Regions from separate parts of the Homo sapiens genome. Here regions 2 and 3 are each reported to be linked to region 1. Evidence: microRNA targets listed by miRTarBase, many of them from high-throughput screens and not tested one by one. Region 1 holds a microRNA gene; each other region holds the end of a gene's coding sequence.

Region 1 (7,121 bases):
CCTTGGGATCTGCCCGCTTTGGCTTCCCAAAGTGCTGGGATTACAGGCGTGAGCCACCGCGCCCAGCCAGGAGTCCCTAGTTTTGACCATCCCCGGGTTCTCACAGGGTTCAGAGGAAGAAGGAGAAGGGGAAGAAGAGGAGGAGGAAGGAGGAGAGTCTAAGGCAGATGATCCCTATGCTCATCTTAGCAAAAAGGAGAAGAAAAAGCTGAAAAAACAGGTAAGACCTTGGTTCTTAGCGGTCAAAAGTAGGGGATTTTTAAATACTTCAACTAGGGGACATGCGATTGGGGACACGAAGGAAAGGTTTGGGGGCTACTCCAAGTAAAACAATCGGAGTAAGAAAATAATTGTGTTCTGTGAACCTTATCTCAATGTCTGATGACATGGGCTGTTTCACTTTGGGGTTTTTTGTTTATTTTTTGAGACAGGGTCTCACACTGTTACTCAGGCTGGAGTGCAATGACGTGATCTCTGTTCACTGCAGCCTCAACCTACCAGGCTCAAGTGATCCTCCCACCTCAGCCTCCCGAATAGCTGAGACTATGGGTGGCACCACCATGCCTGGCTAATTTTTGTATTTTTTGTAGAGACAGTATTTTAGCATGTTGGCCAGGCTGGTCTCAAACTCCTGAGCTCAAGAGATCCACCTACCTCAGCCTCCCAGAGTGCTGGGATTACAGGCGTGAGCCAGCATGCCCAGCCAGCATGGGCTGTTTCATGGTGATGGGAAACTGGTAGACTGTGGCTTCAAATGTAGTTTTTCCTACCTTCTCAGATGGAGTATGAGCGCCAAGTGGCTTCATTAAAAGCAGCCAATGCAGCTGAAAATGACTTCTCCGTGTCCCAGGCGGAGATGTCCTCCCGCCAAGCCATGTTAGAAAATGCATCTGACATCAAGGTAAGGTCTCAAGGGGCCCCTTCCAGTCCACTTACCTAGGGAAGAGCCAGTTCTCTCATCTTCCCTGAGTGGCTGTGGTGTGTGAATGGGTTAGTTCAGTGGGAAGAAAGATTGGAGGCATTTTCCACACCTTAGGTTCTGCCAACTTGAGCAAGAAGATAGAAAAACCAGTAGAAGTGGGGTCCACCCTTGGCAGAAAATAGTGTGGGACAGACTAGACTAGCTGAGGATGCATGGGGCTCCCATTACAGGCAGCGAACAGGGCGGGGACCGGCTGTGGGGAGAGGAAGGGGATTATGCTGGAGGTAGCGGTTTGTCAGAGGCTTCCCTGCAGGGAGAAAGTGGCCGCTCCTGTCCCAAAGGGAGAATTTTCATGTGATCATCCCTTCCCTCTGCCACCTCTTTCCTGATGGCTGCAGCTGGAGAAGTTCAGCATCTCCGCTCATGGCAAGGAGCTGTTCGTCAATGCAGACCTGTACATTGTAGCCGGCCGCCGCTACGGGCTGGTAGGACCCAATGGGTGAGAAGAGGAGGGAGCTGGAGGCAAAAAAGGGCCTGGAGGGAAAAGAAGAGATTTCTCAGTGGTGGCCAGGTCCTAATAGCTTTTATTCCCCAGCAAGGGCAAGACCACACTCCTCAAGCACATTGCCAACCGAGCCCTGAGCATCCCTCCCAACATTGATGTGTTGCTGTGTGAGCAGGGTGAGACCACTGGGGAGAAAAGGGGCTTGGTGGGGTGGGCAGTTGGGTAGAAAAGCCAGCCAGCCAAGAATAGAAGAAATTGTGGCTATGGAGTTGGAAGGGATGTGGAGGGAGACTGGAGACCGGGAAAGGGATGCTAAGGAAAGGAGGGGAGGGTCAATGAGGAACTTGAGAGTGTTTTATTTGGAACAAGTACAAAGAGCTGGGCAGGGTCAGGCAAAACAGAAATGTAATTGAAGGGAAAGAAAGATGAGACTCTTGGCTCTTGAGGCTGCCTGACTGTTCTCCCTCTGCCTCCCAGAGGTGGTAGCAGATGAGACACCAGCAGTCCAGGCTGTTCTTCGAGCTGACACCAAGCGATTGAAGCTGCTGGAAGAGGAGCGGCGGCTTCAGGGACAGCTGGAACAAGGGGATGACACAGCTGCTGAGAGGCTAGAGAAGGTAGAGGAGATGGCGCAGGGGACACGGGCAAAGACTTGGGGGTTCCTGGGACCCTCAGACGTGTGTCCTCTTCTCCCTCCTCCCAGGTGTATGAGGAATTGCGGGCCACTGGGGCGGCAGCTGCAGAGGCCAAAGCACGGCGGATCCTGGCTGGCCTGGGCTTTGACCCTGAAATGCAGAATCGACCCACACAGAAGTTCTCAGGGGGCTGGCGCATGCGTGTCTCCCTGGCCAGGTGGGCCATTCACCTCACTGCCCTCCCTTCCAGCCTCAGACCACCGGGGCCCTTTTCCTCTTTCCCTTCTCATTCTTCCAAGGCCAATAGGGAGGCTCAAGGCTTACCTCTCCCTCCTTACTATCTGTGTTGTGAGAACTTAGGGTCTTTCTCTATTTATCTCCCTACTTGGTGGTGAGTTCTCATCAACATACCCTGCAGCTGGGTGCAATGGGTCACGCCTGTAATCCCAGCACTTTGGAAGGCAGAGGCAGGAGGATTATCTTCAACCCAGGAGTTTGAGACCAGCCTGGGCAATATAGTGAGACTCTATCTTCACAAAAGGGGGAAGAAAACATATCCTAGCCTGGGCAACATAGGGAGACCCTGTCTCTACAAAAAATTTAAAGATCAGCTGGATATGGTGGCGCACGCTGTGGTCACAGCTACTCTGGAGGCTGAAGTAGAAGTATCACTTAGACCTGGGAGATTTAGACTACAGTGAGCCCTTATTGTGCCACTGCACGACAGCCTGGGCAACAGGGCGAGACCCTGTCTCAAAAAAATTAAACCGTATCCTGCCCGAGAACTTCTCTGAGGAGAGCTTGGGAAGGAGTGTTCATGGTCTCAGGCTCTATCTCCGAGTTTTCTCTGGGGTTGTCTGAGCAAGGATCTTTCTCTCCCTGACCCTGCCCTCTGCTACCCACCCTCTAGGGCACTGTTCATGGAGCCCACACTGCTGATGCTGGATGAGCCCACCAACCACCTGGACCTCAACGCTGTCATCTGGCTTAATAAGTGCGTTACGGCCTTTGCATCATTGGTTCCCATTCTGCACTTTCTTCCCCTTCCCTCCCTGCCCTGTTTTCCTTTAGCCCTTCTCCACTGTGCCTGTGAGTGGAGCTCTATTCAGACCCCCCTTTCCCTCCCAGCCCCCGTTGTCTGCCTGCTTCCTCTGAATTCTCTCTCACTTGACCACTGTGACACTTACACCCTGTTCTCTGAAACCCAGCTACCTCCAGGGCTGGCGGAAGACCTTGCTGATCGTCTCCCATGACCAGGGCTTCTTGGATGATGTCTGCACTGATATCATCCACCTCGATGCCCAGCGGCTCCACTACTATAGGGGCAATTACAGTAAGTAGGATTGTGTGTGGATGCAGGGAAGAGATAGAACCTCGAAAAGAGGCCTGAGTGGGAGGGCCTATTTAGATAAACTGAATCCTGTCAGAATTCCAGACAGTGATGCCTACCCCATCACCACCAGTCCCTGGTTGTCCCTTTGCTGGGAAGAGGAGCAACCACTGATGCCTGGTCCCCTCTTCTGCCCCAGTGACCTTCAAAAAGATGTACCAGCAGAAGCAGAAAGAACTGCTGAAACAGTATGAGAAGCAAGAGAAAAAGCTGAAGGAGCTGAAGGCAGGCGGGAAGTCCACCAAGCAGGCGGTGAGCACCTGAGGGACTTCTGGGCTGGGGGCCACTGTTCTCTCCTGGCAGTGGAGGAAGAAGGAGACTCTGGAACGCTGGCCTACATTTCAAGGACTGCCGCGCAGGGCTCAGGTTTCTCTTTTTTCCTCTTCCTCTCCAGGAAAAACAAACGAAGGAAGCCCTGACTCGGAAGCAGCAGAAATGCCGACGGAAAAACCAAGATGAGGAATCCCAGGAGGCCCCTGAGCTCCTGAAGCGCCCTAAGGAGTACACTGTGCGCTTCACTTTTCCAGACCCCCCACCACTCAGCCCTCCAGTGCTGGGTCTGCATGGTGAGTGCCGCGGGCCTCTGCTGCTCCACAGGAAGCACCGGAAGCATGTATGTGCACCCTAAATTCTCCACCAAGGCTGAGATTGCTCCTGTTCTCCAAGGCCAGCACATGAGAGGGACTTTGCAGGGACTGAAAAGAATATAAATTGCTTCTTTTCGTGGCTTTCAGGTGTGACATTCGGCTACCAGGGACAGAAACCACTCTTTAAGAACTTGGATTTTGGCATCGACATGGATTCAAGGAGTGAGTTGGCGGGGTTGCCTCAGGGATGTGTAGCAGGAGCCACAGGGAGAGTCTCTGGGGACCTCTTTGACCACCTGTCTTCCATCTTGCAGTTTGCATTGTGGGCCCTAATGGTGTGGGGAAGAGTACGCTACTCCTGCTGCTGACTGGCAAGCTGACACCGGTGAGTCCTGGAGCCAAGGAGGGAGAGCATGAGAAATGTGAAGACACAGCTGCTTTTGCCAGAAGCTGGAATCAGGGAGCCTCTCGAGAATGTAGAGTTAAATACAGAACTCATGATAGATGATTCATTTCCCTAAGAGGGGCAGTAGAGGAGGAAAGAGCTTAGATCAGTTCAGGGGGGAGAGCTAAGAGAATTAAGATAGAACTAGGGGGCACACCCACGTGTTTTGGTTATACAAGAAATATATGTCTTTTATAGAACGATTAAAAATTGCATAAACGGGCCAGGCACAGTAGCTCACTCCTATAATCCCAGCAGGGATCACCTAAGGTCAAGAGTTCCAGACCAGCCTAGCCAACATAGTGAACCCCGCCTCTACTAAAAATACAAAAATTAGCCGTGTGCGGTGGCGCGCACCTATATCCTAGCTACTCAGGAGGCTGAGGCAGAATTGCTGGAACCTGGGAGGCGGGGGTTGCAGTGAGCTGAGATTGCACCATTGCACTCCAGCCTGGGCAACAGAGCGAGACTCCATCTCAAAAAAAAAAAAAAAAATTGGCCTGGCGTGGTGGCCCACGCCTATAATCCCAACTCTTTGGGGGAGGCTGAGGCAGGCAGATCACTTGAGCTTAGGAGTTAAAAACCAGCCTGAGCCCAGTGTGGTGGCTCACACCTGTAATCCCAACACTTTGGGAAGCCGAGGTGGGAGATCACCTGAGGTCAGGAGTTTGAGACCAACATGAAGAAACCCCATCTCTACTAAAAATACAAAATTAGCCAGACGTGGTTGCACATGCCTGTAATCCCAGCTATTTTGGGAGGCTGAGGCAGGAGAATCACTTGAACCCAGGAGGCAGAGGTTGCAGTGAGCTGAGATTGCGCTATTGCACTCCAGCCTGGGCAACAAGAGCAAAACTCCGTCTAAAAAAAAAAAACAGACCAGCCTGAGCAACATGGTGAAATCCCATCTCTACTAAAAATACAAAAATTAGCTGGGTATGTTGGTGCACGACTGTAGTCCCAGCTACTCGGGAGGCTGAGGTAGGAGAATTGCTTGAGTCCAGGGGGCAGAGGTTCCAGTTAGCCGAGGTCGTGCCACTGCACTCCAGTCTAAGTGACAGAGTGAGGCTCTGTCAAAAAAAAAAAAAAAATGCTTAAGTCAAGAGAAAAATCTGGAGATAACCAGTTTTTTTTTTTTGTTATTTTGTTTTGAGACGGAGTCTCACTGTCGCCCAGCCTGGAGTGCAGTGGTGCGATCTTGGCCCACTGCAACCTCCACCTCCCAGGTTCAAGATATTCTCCTGCCTCAGCCTCCTGAATAGCTGGGATTATAGGTACGCCCCACCATGCCCAGCTACTTTTTGTATTTTTAGTAGAGACAGGGTTTCACCATGTTGGTCAGGCTGGTCTCGAACTCCTGACCTTGTGATCCGCCCGCCTCAGCCTCCCAAAGTGCTGGGATTACAGGCGTGAGCCACCGCTCCCAGCTGAGATAACCAGTATTAATGTTTTAGTGGATATCTTTCTCCTTTTTTCTTTGCAAATGTGCATATAATTTTTAACAAAAATGGGCTGTCATATGAGTTGTTGTGTAGCTAGATTTTTCCAAATATATCAAGCATTTTTCCATGCAATTACTTATTTCATATGAGTCTACCTTTTTTTTTTGAGACAGAGTCTCACTCTGTCACCCAGGCTGGAGTGCAGTGGCACAGTCTTGGCTCACTGCAACCTCCGTCTCCTGGGTTCACGCGATTCTCCTGCCTTAGCCTCCCGAGTAGCTGGGACAACAGGCGCGTGCTACCACGCCCAGCTAATTTTTTGTATTTTTAGTAGAGATGGTTTCACCGTGTTAGCCAGGATGGTCTTGATCTCCTGACCTCATGATCTGCCTGCGTCGGCCTCCCAGAGTGCTGGGATTACAGGTGTGAGCCACCACGCCCGGCAAACTCTACCATTTTATTTGAACTTTTGTAATATATTGCCATCTAGTGTGTTAGAAAGTTTGTAGCCATTTCTGCTCTCTCTAGCAGTGTTGAGAGGCCATTTTCTCATATCCAGAGATTAGATCTTTAGAAAGGTATTATTAGATTCTCCCCAAAACACTAAACTTGCCACATGAGGCCCTTACGATGTACCATTCGTGAGTCTCGCTGTATGGAGAGCAGGTGTTCTTTGGCTGTGGTTAGTCCCTCCTGCTTGTCCCTCTTGTCCTCCATTTTGCTTAACTCCCCTTTTGTCCCTTAACTCTTTTACTTTGCTCACCATGCCTTTGTCATATTAGGGGAACATCCCTGTTCCTTTTCTTTTTTGAGACAAAGTCTTCCCCTGTCCCCGAGGGTGGAGTGCAGTGGTGCGATCTCAGCAACTTCCACCTCCTGGGTTAAAACCATTCTTGTGCCTCAGCCTCCTGAGTAGCTGGGATTATAGGCATGTCCCACTATGCCCAGCTAATTATTGTATTTTTAGTAGAGACAGGGTTTCACAATGTTGGCCAGCCTGGTCTCAAACTCCTGACCTTAAGTGCCTCCTGACCTGCCTTCCTTGGCCTCCCAAAGTGCTGAGATTACAGGCATGAGCCACCGTGCCCAGCCCCTATTCCTTTTCTTATGCATACTTGTCCCTGGCCCATTTCTGGTGTTTGTCTCTCCTTCAGAAAAGTTGGTGTATGGACGAGGTCAGGAGATCGAGACCATC
Region 2 (7,121 bases), not on the chromosome of region 1:
CAGGGTATCTTCTTTACCCCTCGAAACAGGGCTGCAGGCAAAGTTTTTAGTTTGTGACCAGTTCATGAAGAACTTTAATTTGGGAGAAGTTATATTTAAAATTTGCATCTAATATGCAAGATAAATACTTCACTATAAATTTCAAGTTTGCAAAATCACAAATTGTTTTAGGTGTCAGGGTGCATGGTACACTAACTGGCTTAAACCCAGCAGTCATGTGTAGAGCAGTTTATCCTACAAAATAGCTGAATAGTGATTAAAGAGTATGTGCAAAACAACAACAACAAAACCACAAAAAACACCAAGTGGTATCAGCTGGAACCTCTGAGCAGGTCTATGAACTAAACAAGTTCTTCTTATTTAAGCCATGTTTTCGGCCAGGGGCGGTGGCTCATGCCTGTAATCCCAGCACTTTGGGAGGCCGAGGTGAGCGAATCACCTGAGGTCAGGAATTCGAGACCAGCCTCAACGTGGAGAAACCCCGTCTCTACTAAAATACAAAAAAAATTTCGCTGGGCGTGTTGGTGCATGCCTGTAATCCCAGCTACTCGGGAGGCGGAGGCAGGAGAATTGCTTGAACCTGGGAGGCGGAGGTTGCGGTGAGCCAAGATGGCGCCATTGCACTCCAGCCTGGGCAACAAGAGCGAAACTGTCTCAAAAAAAAAAAAAAAAAAAAAAAGCCATGTTTTCATTTTAAGCCACTCATGGTTTCATCCTTGGATTCCCCATTAATTAAAAAAAAATCTCAACTATGAAACACAAAGTTTCATTATTGTTTTGATGTTAAAATAAAGCAGGCTGAACTCTCTAATCCCCAAAGAATAGAAGCACTTAGACTATAGAAAGGGAAACAAGTGTAAAGGTCTGAAATTATTTAAGAGGTTTATAGGATAATTCAAAGCAAAAATTTAGTAGCATAATGAAAGAAAAATGTGATAAAAAGACAAAGACGAACGTTCCAATTAATTTATTTAAATTCATTAATGTTGCAAAAAATATGATGTGCAACAAATCAAGACACAAGTTATATTCCTAACAGGTCAAAGAAAATATTACATCTCCTTAGTAAATCATGACCAACTCTGGTATTTCTTACAGGGACCACATTAATATCTTGCACACACAGACATCAGAACTGAATTTCTGACAGTACTCGGCTGGGCAACATCATCTTAAGAGTAGGAAAATATCACAGTACATTAATTTTGTCTAAATGACAGCAATGAACCTGTGGTAACAAAAGTATTTTTGGAATAGATATCAAAGTGTGTTAATGTCTTAACAAACTCTGAATTGTGTTCTGTGTGAATAGTGCTCCAAGGGCTGTGCAAGTCAGTGGCCCTGAACATCATCAATATTTACTAGCTAGGTTTACACAAATAAACAAGCAACTGTTAAACGGACATTAAACTTTACAAAGTCCACATACAAAAAGTGCAGTGTAGAAGCTGATGAATGTTATTTTCCAAGTTCCTCCTTAGCCAAACTGCATAAAAATTTCAAAATGCAAATATTTTAACTTCTTGTTAAACATGATTCTAAGACATCCTACAAGCCTAGTATCATTAATTTGAAAGCACGAAATGATTTTCATTTGGTGCTTACGTGCTTTATGTGAATTTTTCATAGCATTTTACTTAGTTCTCAAAACATAAATAGGTCTATTATAAATAGTTGCAACATACTGTTATATTCAAATTTTAGTGTCACTCCTTACTGTTAAACATGCCAGACTACTTTATTTTCAATTATCCTTTAGAACTTCAAAGGAAAGTTACATAACTGGGTCTCACCATTGATCTGATTCTAAGTTCATTCAGAATTTCAAGAAGGGCAGAGGGGGATGCTTGCCAGGTAATTCTTTTGTATTAGCTTAGAACATTTGAGTAGATAATACCCCACTTCCCTCACCAGTTGGCCTTCCCATTCAAGTCTAAGTTCTTGACTCTTTCTCGCAGCAACTCAAACTACACAATTCCTATGACCTATAACAAGACCAGACCTATTTTAACAGCAAAATAGGTCTAACTTGTGAGTACATACATTAATGCCTCTTTTTACTCTATCCCTCTCAGATTTGTGGTCCATTTCTCAAATGTCCATATAGGATTGGAGAAAAAACAGGCATGAAAACAAAATAGAATGGTGTAGCAATCTCTATTTTCAGCCTATCTCCTACTCCCATTTGCTTGAGCAAGTTTAACACTTCTCCACATATAACATGGAAAAAGGAAGGATGAACCTACCGTAACATCTCTACCAATCTCATCAGGAAACTGGCCTGTTCTATCTGATATGTCCTAATGCTAATTTATCACTTGAAGAAATATAAAAAGCCACTTCTGTATAAAACACATGTCCAAATTCCCTGAGCATTCACATAAACAGCCAAATAGAAATGTTATATAGTCTTTTTAAAAGGCCTCTATCAAAAAGCAGATCTCTTACCTTTTTAAATTCTGGAATTACGGTTAAAAAAATTCTAGCTACAGATATATGCTTGCCAATCAGCATATTTCAGTATTCAGTGCACTTACTAGTGATGTCCATTTTGGAAGACTAAATCAATGTTCAGCAACAGTGAAATATGAAAAAACAAAAAAACCAACCAAAAACCCTCAATCCTAAACTTTTAAGTGCTGTAACTGCTAACCTTCTCTGCTCGAACTTGCTTCTGTATGAAGAGACAAAGAAAGAGAAAATATGAATTCTTATCATGGGTATGTATTATCAACTTTTCCCCCTTCAATCCACAGTCTTTATTCACATACCTTGCGTATAGCCTGCAGGTTTTCCTGCTGCATACAAGAAATGTTACCATCAGCAGTCACATATGGTACTTCCCTTAAAAGGACACACATGGCCGGGCGTGGTGGCTCAAGCCTGTAATCCAAGCATTTGGGAGGCTGAGACAGGCAGATCATGAGGTCAGGAGTTCGAGACCAGCCTAGCATGGCGAAACCCCGTCTCTACTAAAAATACAAAAATTAGCCGGGCATTGTGGCGTGTGCCTGTAATCCCAGCTACTCAGGAGGCTGAGGCAGGAGAAATGCTTGAACCCGGGAGGCAGAGGTTGCAGTGAGCCAGGATTGCGCCACTGCACTCCAGAATGGGTGACAGAGTGAGTCTCTGTCTCCAAAAAAAAAAAAAAAAAAAGAGAGGGCACACATACAGTGGCATCTTAGGTAACAACTATGTCTTTATCTCTTTATAAAGGTTTGCTTTCTCTTACTTCCTACTTTTATCACTTTCCAATGCCTCTGCTAGACCCTACTTAGAATCATATTTCTTCATATCTCCCTCTGAGTTAAAGATTGTTAAGCTTAAATTGTGGGGTGAATAGAACGTCTTCCCTTGGTGCTTGCTTAGGAGTATGATCAAGCAGAACACAGAATCAAATTATTTCACATGAAAAACTTCTGACTAAAAAAGGGGCACTTAGAGCCTAGTGACAGAAGCATCAAATTAAGCCAGTTAAATTAGATCCATGATCCCAACAGAAAGATAAAAGTACAATCACATATACTTTCACCTTGGTCAGTAATGGGAAATTAAAATGGAATAATATGGGAAATGTTAACTTAGCTATAGATTAGAAACAACAGACTTAATAAATGCTCTTCCTCTAACCTACTATTATGATCTTAAATCTTATAAAACATTTATTGTGGGTACATCTCTATACCAGATTCCATTAAGGTGCAGGTTAAAGCAGGTATCCCTTTAGTTTACTGATTCACAGCACCTCATTTTCATTATATCCCAGGTGTTATCACTGTTGTCTCTGAATTTTAATGTTTAACAGAATAGTCTTCTACTTTTAAAAAAAATTCAGAAAAACATCACTTTTGCAACATGTATCTACAGTTAGGAGCAATGACTGCAAAATCAAAAATCAAAATAATGCAAAAAAGAGTTGAAGTTATTCTTCATATTTTTTAAACTGAAGAACCAAGTACTTAATGTGGTAGAAAACCACCTATTAAAAACCTCAGCCCATTTTGAGCAAGATAAAGATGTACAGATGAAAGACTACGTTAAATCGTCTACAAATATAGAATCTAATGACAAATTCAATATAATTGTTTATACATAATCCTTATATGGTAAATTCAGAAGGAATGCCTAACTTGTTATTGTTAGTTTGCTTCTTCAACAACAAGTGTTCCTAAAATGTGAGCAAGCAATAATCGTTTTGGCTCAATTCACTGTAATGACATTAGTTCAGGATCTGCCAAGAGCTGCTGGATCTGAGTTAAGTCAGGAGGCTGCTGAGGAATGTTTCATCCTGGGAATCCTCCAGCATCTCTCTCCTATAACTGGTTTTAAGTTAGCATGCCAAGTTTAGGACTGAGGAGGACAAAAAATATAGGAAAGTTCCCTTTTGTAACAGAAGGTTTGTAAGTACATGAGAATGGTCACAGCCACATGTGTGTTCAATCTAGGATAGACTAAATCTTGAAAGGTTAGCTCACATCCACTTCAATTTTGCTACTCTAGGCCACTGTTTTGTAAAATACCTTACAGGAAGGGTTGAAGAGTAGCCATGACCTTCAAATTTGGAAGGTATTATGCTTACCAGCTGTGTATGAGCCTTTCAAGTATATGACACAATATCAGATCAATCTGTTGTTTTAGAAATAATTTTGTCGGTAATTAAACTTTTTGTTTGGAGGCACAAACACAATTTATTTCAATGTAAAGGTACTACCAAATGAAACAGTTTAAATGCTTGTAACAAACGTGTTATCCAAAACAGCACAATATGATGATGCTAAGACTTACAAAATTAACCTAATTTACAGTATTGTCAAACATGATTTCATACAAACTTGAATAAACACCACATCTAACTAGGTCAAACAACTACCGAGTTCAAATAATTGATATGGAAGTATTTTGGTAAAGTGCCCATAGTGAGAGTTTAAAAAGCAGCCCCTGTTTTCTATAGAAAAAGTTGTGACAGTGAATAACTCATCACATTCTCTGCAATACTACTCAGCACTCATATACACTCAGGGGAGCAATACCCTGGACACATAGCTTATTTCACATTAGTGAACAAACTCAAGATTTTTATAAAGTTCTGACTTTGGGCCAGAAGATAAAATGTCCCATATATACATATATACAAACCCTAATTCCTACCCTCTTAAATCCTCTAGTTCTAAGAATGGCTTTTTGACTTGTCTTTAAGTTTAGAAAGGAAAAAGTGTGCAATGCGCTTGCATCTGTACTTGCTGAATTATGAAACAAATATGTTAAATGAGAAAAAAACCTTGGGATGGTACTAATACACTTCGATTATATACATGATCTTTGGGTATTCATGACAATCAGTTTAACCATCTGTTGCCTTATGAAAAACTTAATTTCCTAAGTTACCCAGGAAATGTATTTAACCATTTACAAAAACAAAAATTCTAATATGCACTTTAGAAAATCGTGGTCTTATATACCTGCATATTTCTTCCATAAGACAGGTACACATTAAAAAATATTGCTCAATGACATAAAAATATATATTATTTCTTTCCTTTGCCATTTATGCATATAAATATTTCACCGAAGAAGATGCATCATTCAATAAACAAATGCAAAAACTACTTTATATAAAGTGTGGTTCTCTATTTAGCAATATAAAATATAAAACGATAATAATACAGTTAGCTATTAAAGAGCTAAATTCAAGAAATTTGCAAACCAGTACAGCAGTGAACAGTCCCTTGTATAATACAAAAGTCCATTATGAAAAAGTCAAGTCTATTTTGTAACAGGTTACATAAAAATATGGGCCAATAAATGCATTATGAATGCAGAAACAGCACTGCTCCATCAGCACATTCTTCAGTCTTGTTTGGACTAGATGCCAAACTTACTGTTCATTTTTCGGTTCATCTTGTTTTCCATTAAGTTCTTGATCAACTCTGTTTAATGAAGAATATATAAAATAAGAAACCAGCAACTGAACAATTTTCTTTCTAAAAATAATGACTATTTTAGCATAGAATATTACTCTGTTAAAGACAAAGCTTTGCAAAGAAGCAGACATAGTAAAAACAGTTACCAAACATCATTTCCCCAACCAGAAAAGAGAATTTTTAAAGGCAGGAGGACACTGGCAAGAAATGTGACCGTTGTTTCTTTAAAGATTATAAAATACTTTACATACAAATGCATATAAACTTTTTTTTTTTCTTATTTTTGAGACGGAGTCTTGCTCTGTCACCCAGGCTGGAGTGCAGTGGCACAATCTCAGCTCGCTGCAATCTCCGCCTCCTGGGTTCACACCATTGTCCTGCCTCAGCCTCCCGAGTTGCTGGGACTACAGGCGCCCGCCACCATGCCCGGCTAATTTTTCGTATTTTTAGTAGAGGTGGGGTTTCACCATGTTAGCCAGGATGGTCTCGATCTCCTGACCTCGTGATCTGCCTGCCTCAGCCTCCCAAAGTGCTGGGATTACAGGCGTGAGCCACCGTGCCCAGCCATAAACTTTCTTAAAAGTTCAAATTACATGGCATATTAAAATCTTGACCTGTAACTTGGCTGTGGTAGGGATCCAGGTGGTACGAAAATGGCAGGAAAAACAACTCCCTCAAAAATGATTCTGTTAACTAAAATATGAAAATGCCATGAAGGCCACCAATTATCAATCAATATTTTAAAATTCAGTGATAAAAAATGCATCCTTATAGAACCCATAATTATTCTCCAAAACTTATTGGTACACAGTTTGTGAATGCCTTAAATTTGTTTTGACAGTAAGAAGCCTTAAGAATTTAACATTCAAGGCCGGATGCCGTGGCTCACGCCTGTAATCCCAGCACTTTGGGAGGCCTAGGCGGGTGGATCACGAGGTCAGGAGTTCGAGACCAGCCTGGCCAACACAGTGAAACCCCATCTCTACTAAAAATACAAAAATTAGCCAGGTGTGGTGGTACGCGTCTGTAGTCCCAGCTACTTGGGAGGCTGAGGTAGGAGAACCGCTTGAACCCAGGAGGCAGAGCTTGCAGTGAGCTGAGACCATGCCATTGCACTCCAGACTGGGTGACAGAGTGAGACTCCGTCTTAAAAAAATAAATAAAATAAAAAAAAAGAATTTAACATTCAAAAATATCTAA
Region 3 (7,121 bases), not on the chromosome of region 1:
GCTCTTTTGTGAGAAATTTATTTGTCCTTTCTGACTTTGGCTCATCTCTTGGCATAGGCCTGAGGCCTTCTCTGAAGTGGCTGAGAAACACAACAACAGGAACAGGTGAGGAACAAGCCTTGGGGTGGGGTACATGGAAAATAAGGGGTTCATGCTTTGGTGCCTTGAGGGAAAAATAGAGCCTTCTTTCCTCCTTACATAGGGTATCTGTTGAGAGCTCCTAAGCATGTGGTATAACATGGTTATGAATGGGGTTTGAAGGTCAGATGCTCTGGGTTAAAATCTTGGCTTTGCCACTTAAAGCTGAATGACTTTAAGCACGTTATTTAATTCCTTCAAACTCTATTTTCTTATATGTAAAATGGGAGCTTTGTGAGGATTAAAGAAGTGGATGGCTTGTAAAATTGCTTAGTGCAGTATCTGTTATGTGATATGGGTCCATTAAGTGTTAGTTGGTGGTCGTAGAATCATTATTTCTAACTAAAACAAATGGCTGTGGCACACGTTTGGGGAGTGGGGTCAGTCTTTAGCCTGTTTCTTTGGCCACGTTTCCCCACTGTTTGCTCTCCTGTGTCCCTTGTTTGAGTCTTTAAAGGGTGCTGTAGGGCCCTGACTGCTGGGCCGGATGGTCCTTTTTTTGGAACTCCTTGATTGTAGATATTATTTTCCCAGAAGGCGCTGGGCTAACCCTGCTCTCTTCCCTTCGTGCAGACAAACTCAACCAGAACTCCCAGCTGAGCCACAGTTATCAGGAGAGGAGTCCAGCTCAGAAGATGATTCTGACCTGTTTGTTAACACAAACCGCAGACAGTATCATGAGAGTGAGGAGGAGAGTGAAGAGGAGGAGGCAGCCTGAGACTCCAGGACCCAATTCTCCACTTGCTCAGGGACTGGCCCCTGGCTCTTCTGGGCTTGGACATTCCCAGGGTGCTCTGCACATCTTCACCCCTGCATGAGGACAAAGCAGGGCTCCTCTCTGAACTGATCTTTTGATTCAGAGAATTAAACCCCTGGTGGGTTGGTGACTTGTTCTGGTGTCTGAGTGGCTCTCTCGGGGGAGGGAGATTGTGATGAAGTGAAAAACTGCTCCCTATTTATTAGAGACCTTGTGGGTGGGTGGGCTGAATGGGGAGGAAATGGGAAATGGCTGGAGTCTTTCCCAGGTGGTTTGTTCTTTCTTATTGGGCACTTAGAAAGTGCCAGGCCGTGCTCTGGGCCTTCTTGCATGTGTTTAACAGCTGGGAGCACTCCTGCTTCCTTGCCTGCTTGCAGTTCATACCAATTTAAGCATTCAGGATGACAGCCCTAGGACCTAACACCCACCTGCCTCTAAGAGACGCTCAGGAGCCCATGGTGCCTCGTGCTGTTCTCCCCGCCTTTCTAGTCACCCTGTGTACGGGAGTGCTCACCTCCAGCTACTGTGTCCATCCCCACATACGACCTCATCTCTCCCACTCTGCACCATCTATCACTTCCAGAAGGTGGCTGGCAAATCTCTCTATCCTTAACTTTGTTTTGAATGGTCCATCCATCTCCTGACTTTATTTGAAACCTGATTATTCCCTGAGGACATTGATTGTCTTATAACCTTTTAAATAGAGGCTGCTTTTCCACCCTCACCCTTCATTCTTCTAACCAGCCCTGACATTCTCATGAGTAACCTTCTGCCTTCACTTCCCTCTTGTGTAGCATCAATTCCGTAGTCCACCCTACACCCCTCTGTCTCCCTCCATTCTGTTCCGCTAGTAAAACCCTAACCCTGGGTAAACCCAATCATTCACCTCTGTGCCCAAACCCAAGTCACCATCATTAGGTGAGAAAACAGCCAGCCTGGCCACCAGTTGTACCTTACGTTTATCATTACAAACCTCAGATGGACACTAAGCACTGCCCAGCAGATCTACTCTGGGATGTCTGTTTCAAAACTTCTGTCTTATCTATCAATTCCCCCTTGTGGTAGTTACCACAACACATGCCTCATTAAGAAACAGCAACCATCAGAGGGAATGCCTGCCTCCCTGTTACCAGCTCTGCAGATGTGCACATATCTTCCTGTCGTAAGCCAATGGGACTTAAACCTTACCTCTTGTGTTTTGGAGACTATCTTTTTTTTTTTTTTTTTTTTTTTGAGAGAGTGTCTCCCTGTGTTGCTCAGGCTGGAGTGCAGTGGTGTGATCTCGGCTCACTGTAACCTTCACCTACTGGGTTCAAGTAACTCTCCTGCCTCAGCCTCCCGAGTAGCTTGGACTACAGGCGTGCACCACCACACCTGGCTAACTTTTTGTATTTTTAGTAGAGACGGGGTTTTGCCATGTTGCCCGGGCTGGTCTCGAACTCCTGACCTTAAATGAGCCTCCTGCCTCAGCCTCCCAAACTGCTGGGATTACAGGCGTGTGCCACCATGCCTGGCTAATTTTTATATTTTCAGTAGAGACGAGGTTTTGCCATGTTGGCCAGGCTGGTCTCGAACTCCTGACCTCAAGTGGTCCACCCACCTTGGCCTCCTAGAGTGCTGGGATTACAGGTGTGAGCCACTGTGCCCGGCCTCTTTTGCTTTCTTAAAGACTTTGGTCGGGTATTTGTGTTGTTGAGTATTGTGTCTGGGTGTGGGTATTTGATTCTTTTTTTGTTTTGTGTTTTTGGCTGTCCTGTCTATTGGATGTGATATGTTATGGATGTGATGTGTTAGTGTCGAGCGTGCTGTAGAATCTCCCATTTCTGAAACAGGCGTGAAAACCTGTACTGATTCCCACGTCCTCCAGCTACCACTTCATTTGTCTGTTTCTCATTTACTTTCTCTTATAGCGTGGCTTTAAACATATATACATTTGTATATATGTATATATGAATATAATGTATAAAATGTATGTAGATGTATATACAAAAAATAAACGAGATGGGTTAAAGATATGTATGTGTGTGTATCTATCTTTAATTCATCTGAAGTTTGTTTTTTCTGAGAGGTAGCAAACTTTCCCTAAAGGGAAAGTCACTTGTCCCTGTACTATTTCTTGAAAGGTTCATTCTTTGCTCACTGGAAATATTTCTTTTTTTTTTTTTTTGAGACGGAGTCTCGCTCTGTTGCCCAGGCTGGAGTGCAGTGGCGCCATCTCGGCTCACTGCAAGCTCTGCCTCCCGGGTTCACGCCATTCTCCTGCCTCAGCCTCCTGAGTAGCTGGGACTACAGGCACCCACCACCACGCCCGGCTAATTTTTTGTATTTTTAGTAGAGATGGGGTTTCACCGTTGTTAGCCAGGATGGTCTCAGTCTCCTGACCTCGTGATCTGCCTGCCTTGGTCTCCCAAAGTGCTGGGATTACAGGCATGAGCCACCACGCCTGGCCAGAAATATCTTTTAAAACATAAATTCCTGCATATATATGGATCTTTTTTGGAATTTCTAATCTGTCCTATTGATCCGTGTGCCCATACTGCATTTTTTTTTTTTTTGAGACAGTCTTGCTTTGTCACCCAGGCTGGAGTGCAGTGGCGTGATCTCAGCTCGCTGTAACCTCCGCCTCCCAGGTTCAAGCGATTCTCCTGCCTCAGCCTCTCCATAGCTGGGACTACAGACACTTGCCACTACACCCGGCTAATTTTTGTATTTTTAGTAGAGACGGAGTTTCAACTTTTATTTTTTTGAGACAGGGTTTCACTCCTGTCACCCAGGCTGGAACACAGTGATGCAATCATGGCTCATTGCAGCCTCCACCTCCTGGGCTCAAGCGATCCTTCTACCTCAGCCTACTGCGTAGCTGGGACCACAGGTGTGCACCACCACATCGGGCTAATTTTTCTTTTTCTATTTTTTTTTTTTTTTTTTTTTGTAGAGCCAGTCTTATTATGTTGCCCAGGCTGGTCTCAAACTCCTGGGCAAGCCATCCTCCCGCCTCAGCCTCCCAGAGGGCTGGGATTCCAGGCGTGAGCCACTATGTCCACCCAAGAAGTGGTATCTTAACAGTTTATTTTTAGTTTTGTTTAAATAAATATTGTAGAAAAATTAACAGTTTTTCATCTTCCTGTCCAGAAATGAGGTATGTTCTTTGGTAAGGTGGTGTGGTCTTCAAATGGGCCTTTACTTCCAATTTGGTTTAGTCTTAGGAGTTTTATGAAAGTCCTAGTTACTGGTAGTGAAGGATCTGTGGAAATCACCTTTCCCCATCCCTGGCATCCACCTGTGTGTCCATCTTTGTGTTGCCCACCTTGTCGAATGCGCAGTTCTTCAGTTGATCTTGTGGCTTTATAGATAGCCAAATCGTATCCCACTAATGACAGTTTTATCTCCTCCTTTACACTCATGTCTATTTCTTGTGAATCTCAGAGGCCAGGACCTCCACCGTGGTTGCATGGCACCCTTGATTGATGTTTTCTCAGTGGGAATGGTTCTCACGTTGCGTCCTGAGGTAGGACGCTTGCTCTGGGCTTCCGGTAGATGATCTTCATTAGACTGAAGATGTTTTCTTTGTTCCATCTTACTGTTTTTTTTTTCTCCTTCGCTTTTGTTTAACAGTGATGAATGTTGACATCTATGGAGAAAATCAAAAGATTTTATTGTATGATTGTACTGAGTTACAGTAATAGGTTTCCTAATGTTGGACACACCTTACTTTCTGATATAAACCTTGCTTAGTTTTACAGTATATTATGTATTTACTTAGGAGTTTTATCTCTCTCCCTGGGCCAATCCCCTCCCTCTTTTTAAAAAATGACCTTCCTGTTCTATTTCGAGATTAGCTTTATGCTAGCCTTGCAAATGGGTTTGGAGACGTCTTTTTCTTCAGGCTTGAATACTTTATAGGCCAGGCATTTGTTTCTTCAACGTTGTGAACTTGTTTACAAAAACATCTGTGCTGGGTACCTTTTTCAGGGGTGGATCTTTCACTGCCTTTTAGTTTATTCAGTTGTGTTCTGTCTAAAGTTTTCTATCCTTGAGTCAATTTTGATCATTTGTATCATTCCAGGATCATATTTCATATATATTTAAGCTTTTTGGGCAAAAGTTCATGCATAATATTTGTATTATTTGGAACTTTCTTTTTTTGTTTGTTTGTTTTTGTTTTGTTTTTGAGGCAGAGTTTCACTGTGTCGCCCAGGCTTGAGTGCAGTGGTGCAGTATCGGCTCACTGTAACCTCCACCTCCCGGGTTCAAGTGATTCTCCTGCCTCAGCCTCCCAAGTAGCTGGAATTACAGGCACCCGCCACCACACCCAGCTAATTTTTGTATTTTTAGTAGAGATGGGGTTTTGCCATGTTGACCAGGCTGGTCTCAAAGTCCTGACCTCAGGTGATTGGCCCCCCTCAGCCTCACAAAGTGCTGGGATTACAAGGGTGAGCCACTGCACCCAGTAATTTTTTTTTTTTTTTTGAGACAGCCTCTCACTCTGTTGCCCAGGCCATCATGGCGCCACTGCAGCCTTGACCTCCCAGGCCCAAGTGATTCTCCCACCTCAGCCTCCTGAGTAGCTGGAACCACATGTGCGCGCCACCACACCTGGCTAATTTTTTTTATTTTTAGTAGAGACAGGCTCTCCCTATGTTGCCCAGGCTAGTCTCGAACTCCCAGGCTCAAGTGATGCTCCTGCCCTGGCCTCTCAAAGTACTGGGATTACAGGTGAGAGCCACCATCCTGGCGTATGCGGGACTTTCTTATAAATGACAAAATTGAACTCAAATTAGGAGAAGTAAGCAAGGCTCATTGACCTGAGGTCTCTGAGTGGTGCGCATCGGGCAGGGATGAACCAATGCCAGCAGCATGAATTCCTCAGGCTCTCTCATTTATCTCTGTCATCTCTGCTCCCGGCTGATTAATTTCTTTCCCTCCTACAGATGTTTTCTGTAGAAAGCTCAAGTTTTTTTTTTTTTTTTTTTTTTGAGACGGAGTCTCGCTGTTGCCCAGGCTGGAGTGCAATGGCGCGATCTCGGCTCACTGCAGGCTCCGCCCCCCGGGGTTCACGCCATTCTCTTGCCTCAGCCTCCTGAGTAGCTGGGACTACAGGCGCCCGCCACCACGCCCGGCTAATTTTTTGTATTTTTAGTAGAGACAGGGTTTCACCGTGTTAGCCAGGATGGTCTCGATCTCCTGACCTCGTGATCCGCCTGCGTCGGCCTCCCAGAGTGCTGGGATTACAGGCATGAGCCACTGCGCCCAGCCAGGACGCTCAAGTTTATACACAGTCCTTGTAGACAGAGCCCCTTGGGGCTCTTGAGGATCCCTGTATTTCCGTGAAGGGCGATTGATCTTCCTCAGGTCACTTGCTGTGCTTGAGCAGTCACTGTGGCCAGGGCCGGGGGGTGGGAGGGTGTGGAGGACTGGGGTGGGGCAGGATGAGCCACAAGTAATTTTTATATGTTTCCCATGGAATAGAGAGGTTCTATTACCAGAAAAAGTGGGGCAAGGGGTGAGGGCAGGTGAAATCAACAAAATATGTTTATATTTTGTGTATTTTATTTGGCTAGCTTTGCAAGAGGTCTTCCTTACTGGACTTTTCCTTCGTTTCTTTGGGTTTATTTGCTCATTCTGGGTTCTTGAGATGTGTGCTTAGCTAATTTAATTTCAATTTGTTTTCTAATATATTCAGGGCTATATGTTTTCTTCTAAATAGTCCTTTGACTGTTCCCCACTTTGTGTGTGTGTGTTTTGGCGTTTTATCTGTAAACTTGGTCTTATGTTCTTCTCCATTCTCTCAGTGATACTGTGATCCACCTAGTAACATCTTTTTTTCCCCCTAAAACCTTTTCGTTTCCACTTCTTCATCTCTTACCAGCCATTCAGCTTCTGTGGGCTGTAGCTAAGGGTACTGATGGAGGTAGGGTCCTTGTATTCTGCATGCTACTTTCCTATGTCATTCTCTGAAGCTGGATTCCACCTCTGTTCTTCCAACTGAATGGTGGGATCCAACCATGTATGAATAGATCTCCCTGAGTGAGCTGAGATCTGATGTAAGAGCCCCTTGTCCCGATGTCATGGCCAGTCCCTGTGACTGGCTGCCTAATAGTACTTACTGGCTTCTCTTGCAGTTATGCTTGAGACTTTGTGGCCCTTCAGAATCTGTACCTCTGTCACTTCAGGACTAACCTCTACAGCCAGGTCATTTCCACCAGGGCTTCCCCGTGTGGCCCAG

What was found. Region 1 holds the annotated microRNA hsa-miR-877-3p (UCCUCUUCUCCCUCCUCCCAG, at 2,110-2,130, shown strand). A microRNA usually pairs through its seed, bases 2 to 8, with sites in the 3' UTR of a target mRNA and lowers its output. Matches are read on the target gene's strand: a 7mer-m8 pairs with bases 2 to 8, a 7mer-A1 pairs with bases 2 to 7 and ends in A, and an 8mer does both.
Region 2: the mRNA of BNIP2 is a reported target of hsa-miR-877-3p. The part of its 3' UTR that is shown has no 7-base or 8-base seed match.
Region 3: miRTarBase lists EIF1AD as a target of hsa-miR-877-3p. The part of its 3' UTR that is shown has no 7-base or 8-base seed match.

The regions. Positions count from the first base shown.
Region 1 is chr6:30,582,288-30,589,408 of GRCh38, forward strand. MIR877 (microRNA 877) reads left to right here and starts at 2,045; the gene lies at 2,045-2,130. ABCF1 (ATP binding cassette subfamily F member 1) reads left to right here. Exons shown (of 25, transcript NM_001025091.2): 9 at 107-220; 10 at 779-901; 11 at 1,321-1,421; 12 at 1,518-1,603; 13 at 1,905-2,044; 14 at 2,131-2,279; 15 at 2,973-3,056; 16 at 3,271-3,395; 17 at 3,592-3,704; 18 at 3,847-4,018; 19 at 4,187-4,261; 20 at 4,354-4,424.
Region 2 is chr15:59,658,194-59,665,314 of GRCh38, forward strand. BNIP2 (BCL2 interacting protein 2) reads right to left here. Exons shown (of 10, transcript NM_004330.4): 10 at 953-5,927. The coding sequence ends at 5,876. Among named protein-coding and RNA genes, the nearest start is that of GTF2A2, 4.2 kb to the left of the region's middle.
Region 3 is chr11:65,992,334-65,999,454 of GRCh38, reverse strand. It overlaps EIF1AD (eukaryotic translation initiation factor 1A domain containing), which reads left to right. Exons shown (of 6, transcript NM_001242481.2): 5 at 58-105; 6 at 712-2,910. The coding sequence ends at 856. Among named protein-coding and RNA genes, the nearest start is that of EIF1AD, 6.3 kb to the left of the region's middle.